Linked DNA regions of Homo sapiens. The protein of the gene in region 1 interacts with the protein of each later gene in a pairwise test. Each region holds a gene or a part of one and is shown on either strand. Other genes may lie near its edges. The genes, in order: NIBAN3 and BAG3.

What was found.
Region 2: the proteins of NIBAN3 (region 1) and BAG3 interact in binary tests that used the Homo sapiens proteins (3 or more experiments, as listed by UniProt).

The regions. Positions count from the first base shown.
Region 1 is NC_000019.10:17,551,105-17,554,300, reverse strand, and holds the end of NIBAN3 (protein Niban 3), read right to left. Parts: intron 2,516-3,196; coding exon 2,403-2,515; coding exon of another isoform or gene 2,309-2,402; 3' UTR 989-2,308; downstream 1-988.
Region 2 is NC_000010.11:119,675,131-119,678,392, forward strand, and holds the end of BAG3 (BAG family molecular chaperone regulator 3), read left to right. Parts: intron 1-1,333; coding exon 1,334-2,152; 3' UTR 2,153-2,689; downstream 2,690-3,262. UniProt on the Homo sapiens protein: Co-chaperone and adapter protein that connects different classes of molecular chaperones including heat shock proteins 70 (HSP70s), e.g. HSPA1A/HSP70 or HSPA8/HSC70, and small heat shock proteins (sHSPs), e.g. HSPB8.

The DNA.
Region 1 (3,196 bases):
GCTATGTTGCCCCGGCTGTTCTCAAACTCCTGGTCTCAAGTAATCCTCCCCCTTCAGCCTCCCAAACTGCTGGGATTACCAGTGAGCCATCATGCCCCGCTAAAACTTAATTTTTAAGAATGATACAGGCCAGGTGCAGTGGCTCACGCCTGTAATCCCAGCATTTTGGGAGGCTGAGGCAGGCGGATCACTTGAGGTCAGGAGTTCGAGACCAGCTTGGTCAATATGGTGAAGCCCCCATCTCTTCTAAAAACACAAAAAATTAGCCGGTCATGGTGGCGCTTCGCCTGTAATCCCAGCTACTACGGAGGCCGAGGCAGGAGAATCACTTGAACCCAGGAGGTGGAGGTTGCAGTGAGCCAAAATCGCACCACTGCATTCCAGCCTGGGTGACAGAGTGAGACACCGTCTCAAAAAAAAAAAAAAAAAGGTAAAAACAAATTTACACTCTGTGGACTTGATGAGGAAAGGTCTTTTCATATTAAGTAAGAAAAAGGAGGTGACAAGATACATCCCATCCCATCTGGAAGGATTTAGACCCAAGGGCAAACAATGTTTTTCTCAAAAGGGGCAGGATGACAAATTCTTGTAGCTGCAATTGTTCCAGAATTAACATCTACATCCCGTCCGGGGTAAAAGGAAGACAGCTAAAGAAGCCTATGAAGTGCAAATGTATTGAGCAAATGTATTTCGGAAGGTGGGGTTGGAGGGAAATAGGTGGAAAGGTCAGGAATATCTCATTGTCTTGGGGTAGGCCGAAAACTCCAGACAGAATGGGAGGAAACGGTCTCCAGGGAGTGTGAAAGTCCCTCTGCAAGCTGAACCAAGAACACACGGGAATCCCTGTGGAACCCACTCCGGAAGCAGCTGCAAGACAGCAGAGAAGCTGCCAATATCCAGTTAGCAGATGACTTTGCTGGCAAGCAGAGGAAGTCGGTAAAAGCTTGTCTCCCAGCCAGGAAACTTGACACCAAGTTAAGATTTGGAGCTAGGAAACAAACCCAAAAGGCTCACAGCAAGCGGAGAAAAAAACCCCAAAATCTGTAACCTGTATCACAAAGCGTTCATATCCTTCAGATATAAAGAGTTATTAGATATCAATAAGAAAAATGCAAACACTCCTGAAAAGTAGAAAAAAGCTATGAACAGGCAATTCACTGAAATTAAAAAAAAAAAAACTACAAACATGTAAATGGCTAATCAACATATTTGGATTTTGTTTTTTGAGACAGGGTCTCACTCCCATCACCCAGGCTGGAGTGCAGTGGTGCAATCACCACTCACTGCAGCCTTGAGTTCCCAGGCTCAGGTAAATCTCCCATCTCAGCCCAGCTTCTTTTAAATTTTATTTATTTATTTATTTATTTATTTATTTATTTATTTATTTTATTTTTTAGTAGAGACAGGTTTCACCACATTGCCCAAGCTGGCCTCAAAACTCCTTGGCTCAAGCAATCCACCTGTCTCAGCCTCCCAAAGTGCTGGGATGACAGGCGTGAGCCACCACTCCCGGCCGCTAATTTTGTATTTTTTGTAGAGATGAGGTCTCACTATGTTCGCCAGGCTGGTCTTGAACTCCTGAGCTCAAGTGATCTGCCCGCCTCAGCCTCCCAAAGTGCTGGGATTACAGGTGTGCACTGCCACGCCTGGCCATAATAAACTTATTTGTAAGTTCAATTTAGTCAAAGAAATTCAAAATAAAATCATGAGATTTCTGTGTGTGTCTAACTGGCATAGCTTTTTTCTTTTCATGAAAAGTCCTAGTGTTTAGAAAGGATTTGGAGGCTGGACATAGTGGATCACTCCTATAATCCTAGCACTTTGGGAGGCCAAGGCAGGAGGATTGCTTGAGTCCAGGAGTTTGAGATCAGCCTGGGCAGCATAGCGAGACCTTGTCTCTATTATTTAAAAAAAAAAAATTAGGCCACGTGTGGTGGCTCACACCTGTAATCCCAGCACTTTGGGAGGCTGAGGGGGGCAGATCACTTAAGGACAGGAGTTCGAGACCAGCCTGGCCAACATGGTGAAACCCCATCTCTACTAAAAACACAAAAATTAACCAGGCATGGTGGCGGGTGCCTGAAATCTCAGCTACTCGGGAGGCTGAGGCAGGAGAATCGCTTGAACCCGGGAGGCGGAGGTTGCAGTGAGCCGAGATCCTGCCACTGCACTCCAGCCCGGGTGACAGAGCAAGACTCAGTCTCAAAAAAAAAAAAAAAATTAAAATAAAGAAAGCCTTGGGGAAAATACACAAATAAATGCTGCTGCTTGGAGTATAAAATGGTACAGTTTTCTGAAGTTGCAGGGGTTACAAAAGCCTAAAGATGGCACATCCGTTTTGGCCCAGAAATTCCACTTGTAGACATTTATCCAATAGAAACAAGATAGATGTGGGTGAAGATTCAGCTCCGGAATGTTCCTGGAGAAGGCGGTGGGCAGAGTGGCTGGATCTGGGCACCAGAGTCTGGCTGCCTGGGACAAGCCCCTCCTTCCCGCTCAGCCTCAGTTTCCTCATCTGTATAATGGAAAATATACGGACGTCAAAAATCAGATGTGTCAGATGCCTGGCATGTAATAAGTGCTTAAAAAATCAGAGTTAATAGAGATGTTGGCTGGGCGCAATGGCTCATGCCTGTAATCCCAGCACTCTGGGAGACCAAGGATCAGGAGTTCAAGACCAGCTTGGCCAACATGGTGAAACCTCATCTTTACTAAAAATACAAAAATTAGCTGGGCATGGTGGTGGGCGCCTGTAATCCCAGCTACTCGGGAGGCTGAGGCATGAGAATCGCTTGAACCCGAGAGGCAGAGGTTGCAGTTAGCCGAGATCGCGCCATTGCACTCCAGCCCGGGTGACAAGAGCGAAACTCCATCTCAAAAAATAAAAATAAAAAAAAAGAAATGTAGGCCGGGTGCAGTGGCTCACGCTTGTAATCCCAGCACTTTGGGAGGCCGAGGCAGGTGGATCACCTGAGGTCAGGAGTTCAAAATCAGCCTGGCCGACATGGTGAAACCCCATGTCTACTAAAAATACAAAAGTAGCCGGGCGTGGTGGTGGACGCCTGTAATCCCAGCTACTGGGGAGGCTGAGGCAGGAGAATTGCTTGAACCCGCAAGGTGGAGGTTACAGTGAGCCAAGATGCTGCCACTGCACTCCAGCCTGGTGACAGAGCGACACTCCATCTCAAAAAATAAA
Region 2 (3,262 bases), on another chromosome or scaffold:
AGACCAGCCTGGGCAGCATGGTGAAACCCTGTCTCTACAAAAAAATAGAAAAATTAGCCAGGCATGATGGTATGTGCCTGTAGTTGCAACTAATCATGAAGCTAAGGTGAGAGGATCACTTGAGGCCAGAAGGTTGAGGCTGCATTGAGCTGTGATAGCCCCGCTGCACTCCAGCCTGGGCAACAGAGTGAGACCCTGTCCCCCACAAAAATCTATATATCTATATGGCTGTAGTTTATAGTCACAGGAAAACCTGTGCAGCCAGAGGTTAGCACAGAGGCGCTGTGTCATTGCTGAATGTTAGGCTACAGCACAGCTATCCTGAAGCAAAATTGTTCTGGAGTTAACCATTTAGAGCATCTTGGCTAATCCTAAAAAAATACATTGGTCTGGGCAGAAACTACTAGGCTGTCACGGTTTTAAAAAAAGAAGATCGTATCTTTTCTAAAACAGGAGACAAGAAGATCACACCGTGAGCAGACTGTCTGCACAGTGTAAGGAAGAAGGACCAGAGGCAGCGACTCCAAGGCTGCAACACCTGAGAGCTGGAGTCACTCAGGACTCTGCTCTGAGTCAGCCTAGTTCAGCAGTCAGCATGAGTTTTTGCTATTTTTTTCCTTCTTTCCTTCCTTCCTTCCCTCCTTCCCTCCCCCTCCCTTCCCCCCTTCCCCTTCCCCCCTTCCCTGCTTCCTTCCCCCTTCCCCCTTCCCTCCTTCCTTCCTGCCCCCTTCCCCCTTGCCCCCTTCTCCCCTTCCTTCCTTCCTTCCTTCCCCCCTTCCTTCCTTCCTTCCTCCCTCCCTCCCTTCCTTCTTTGAGACAGGATCTCGCTCTGTCACTCAGGCTGGAGTGCAATGACATAATCGTGGCTCACTACAGCCTTGAATTCCTGGGCTCAAGCGATTCTTCCGCCTCAGCCTTCTGAGTAGCTGGGACTACGAGTGCAAGCTCCCACACCTGGCTAATTTTTAAAGATTTTTTGTAGGGTTGGGGTCTTACTATATTGCCCAGGTTAGCTATTTTCATTTTTGAAAATTTTATTGGGTTTCTTTTCATTGCCATTAAGAATACCATCTACAGAGAAATTCAGTGAGAGGTAATAGACAAATAGCCTGGGGTGATCAATGGAAGCCTGACTAATGATTGGGTTACATACATGATTAATACCATGTTTTTATTTTGTAACAGCCATTGATTGACTTTGAAAATCTTTTATACTATTAAACTTTTTTTAAAAAGCCATTTCTCAGTTTTCTTTCTAATCTGTACTAGCTACAAACAATTTCTGTGACTTTCAGTCAGTTATTAAAAATATATTTTTGTGTCCTTTTTTCAGCAGCCCATGACCCATCGAGAAACTGCACCTGTTTCCCAGCCTGAAAACAAACCAGAAAGTAAGCCAGGCCCAGTTGGACCAGAACTCCCTCCTGGACACATCCCAATTCAAGTGATCCGCAAAGAGGTGGATTCTAAACCTGTTTCCCAGAAGCCCCCACCTCCCTCTGAGAAGGTAGAGGTGAAAGTTCCCCCTGCTCCAGTTCCTTGTCCTCCTCCCAGCCCTGGCCCTTCTGCTGTCCCCTCTTCCCCCAAGAGTGTGGCTACAGAAGAGAGGGCAGCCCCCAGCACTGCCCCTGCAGAAGCTACACCTCCAAAACCAGGAGAAGCCGAGGCTCCCCCAAAACATCCAGGAGTGCTGAAAGTGGAAGCCATCCTGGAGAAGGTACAGGGGCTGGAGCAGGCTGTAGACAACTTTGAAGGCAAGAAGACTGACAAAAAGTACCTGATGATCGAAGAGTATTTGACCAAAGAGCTGCTGGCCCTGGATTCAGTGGACCCCGAGGGACGAGCCGATGTGCGTCAGGCCAGGAGAGACGGTGTCAGGAAGGTTCAGACCATCTTGGAAAAACTTGAACAGAAAGCCATTGATGTCCCAGGTCAAGTCCAGGTCTATGAACTCCAGCCCAGCAACCTTGAAGCAGATCAGCCACTGCAGGCAATCATGGAGATGGGTGCCGTGGCAGCAGACAAGGGCAAGAAAAATGCTGGAAATGCAGAAGATCCCCACACAGAAACCCAGCAGCCAGAAGCCACAGCAGCAGCGACTTCAAACCCCAGCAGCATGACAGACACCCCTGGTAACCCAGCAGCACCGTAGCCTCTGCCCTGTAAAAATCAGACTCGGAACCGATGTGTGCTTTAGGGAATTTTAAGTTGCATGCATTTCAGAGACTTTAAGTCAGTTGGTTTTTATTAGCTGCTTGGTATGCAGTAACTTGGGTGGAGGCAAAACACTAATAAAAGGGCTAAAAAGGAAAATGATGCTTTTCTTCTATATTCTTACTCTGTACAAATAAAGAAGTTGCTTGTTGTTTGAGAAGTTTAACCCCGTTGCTTGTTGTTCTGCAGCCCTGTCTACTTGGGCACCCCCACCACCTGTTAGCTGTGGTTGTGCACTGTCTTTTGTAGCTCTGGACTGGAGGGGTAGATGGGGAGTCAATTACCCATCACATAAATATGAAACATTTATCAGAAATGTTGCCATTTTAATGAGATGATTTTCTTCATCTCATAATTAAAATACCTGACTTTAGAGAGAGTAAAATGTGCCAGGAGCCATAGGAATATCTGTATGTTGGATGACTTTAATGCTACATTTTAAAAAAAGAAAATAAAGTAATAATATAACTCAAAATGGTTTTTGTGGTTTCTAAATCTTTGAAAGCAGTGGCATCATGGAGATTGTCTGTCCCTGGTTTCAGTCAGAATAAATGACAGGTGCATTTAACAAGCCTGCTTTGGGTTTTGTGACGTCTCCAATAGCCCGGCTCAAGAGAGAATTGTCTTGGTCACCTTTCAGTCTCAGATTGCAACAGGAACCTGGGAAGACTCAGGGCTGTGAACTCCGGTAATGGGAACATGCCTGCTGCATCCGTTCGGACCGACCCAGCCAACAGCCAAGGTGCCAGTTAGGTAGCATGTCTGCCCACCTGTCCTCAGGCCTCACCAAGAAGCTGAGATTGTCCAAAAGTGCCCAGAGGGCCTGGCGCAATGGCTCACACCTGTTATCCCAGCACTTTGGGAGGCCAAGGCAGGAGGATCCCTTGAGGCCAGGAGTTTGAGACCAGCCTGGGCAACATAGCAAGACCCTGTCTCTACAAAAAACAAATCAGCCAGGTGGTGGCATGCGTCTTCAGTCCCAAGCTACCAGGGATGCTGAGACGTGAAGATAGTTTAAGTCCAAGAGATGAGGCTGCCGTGAGCTGTG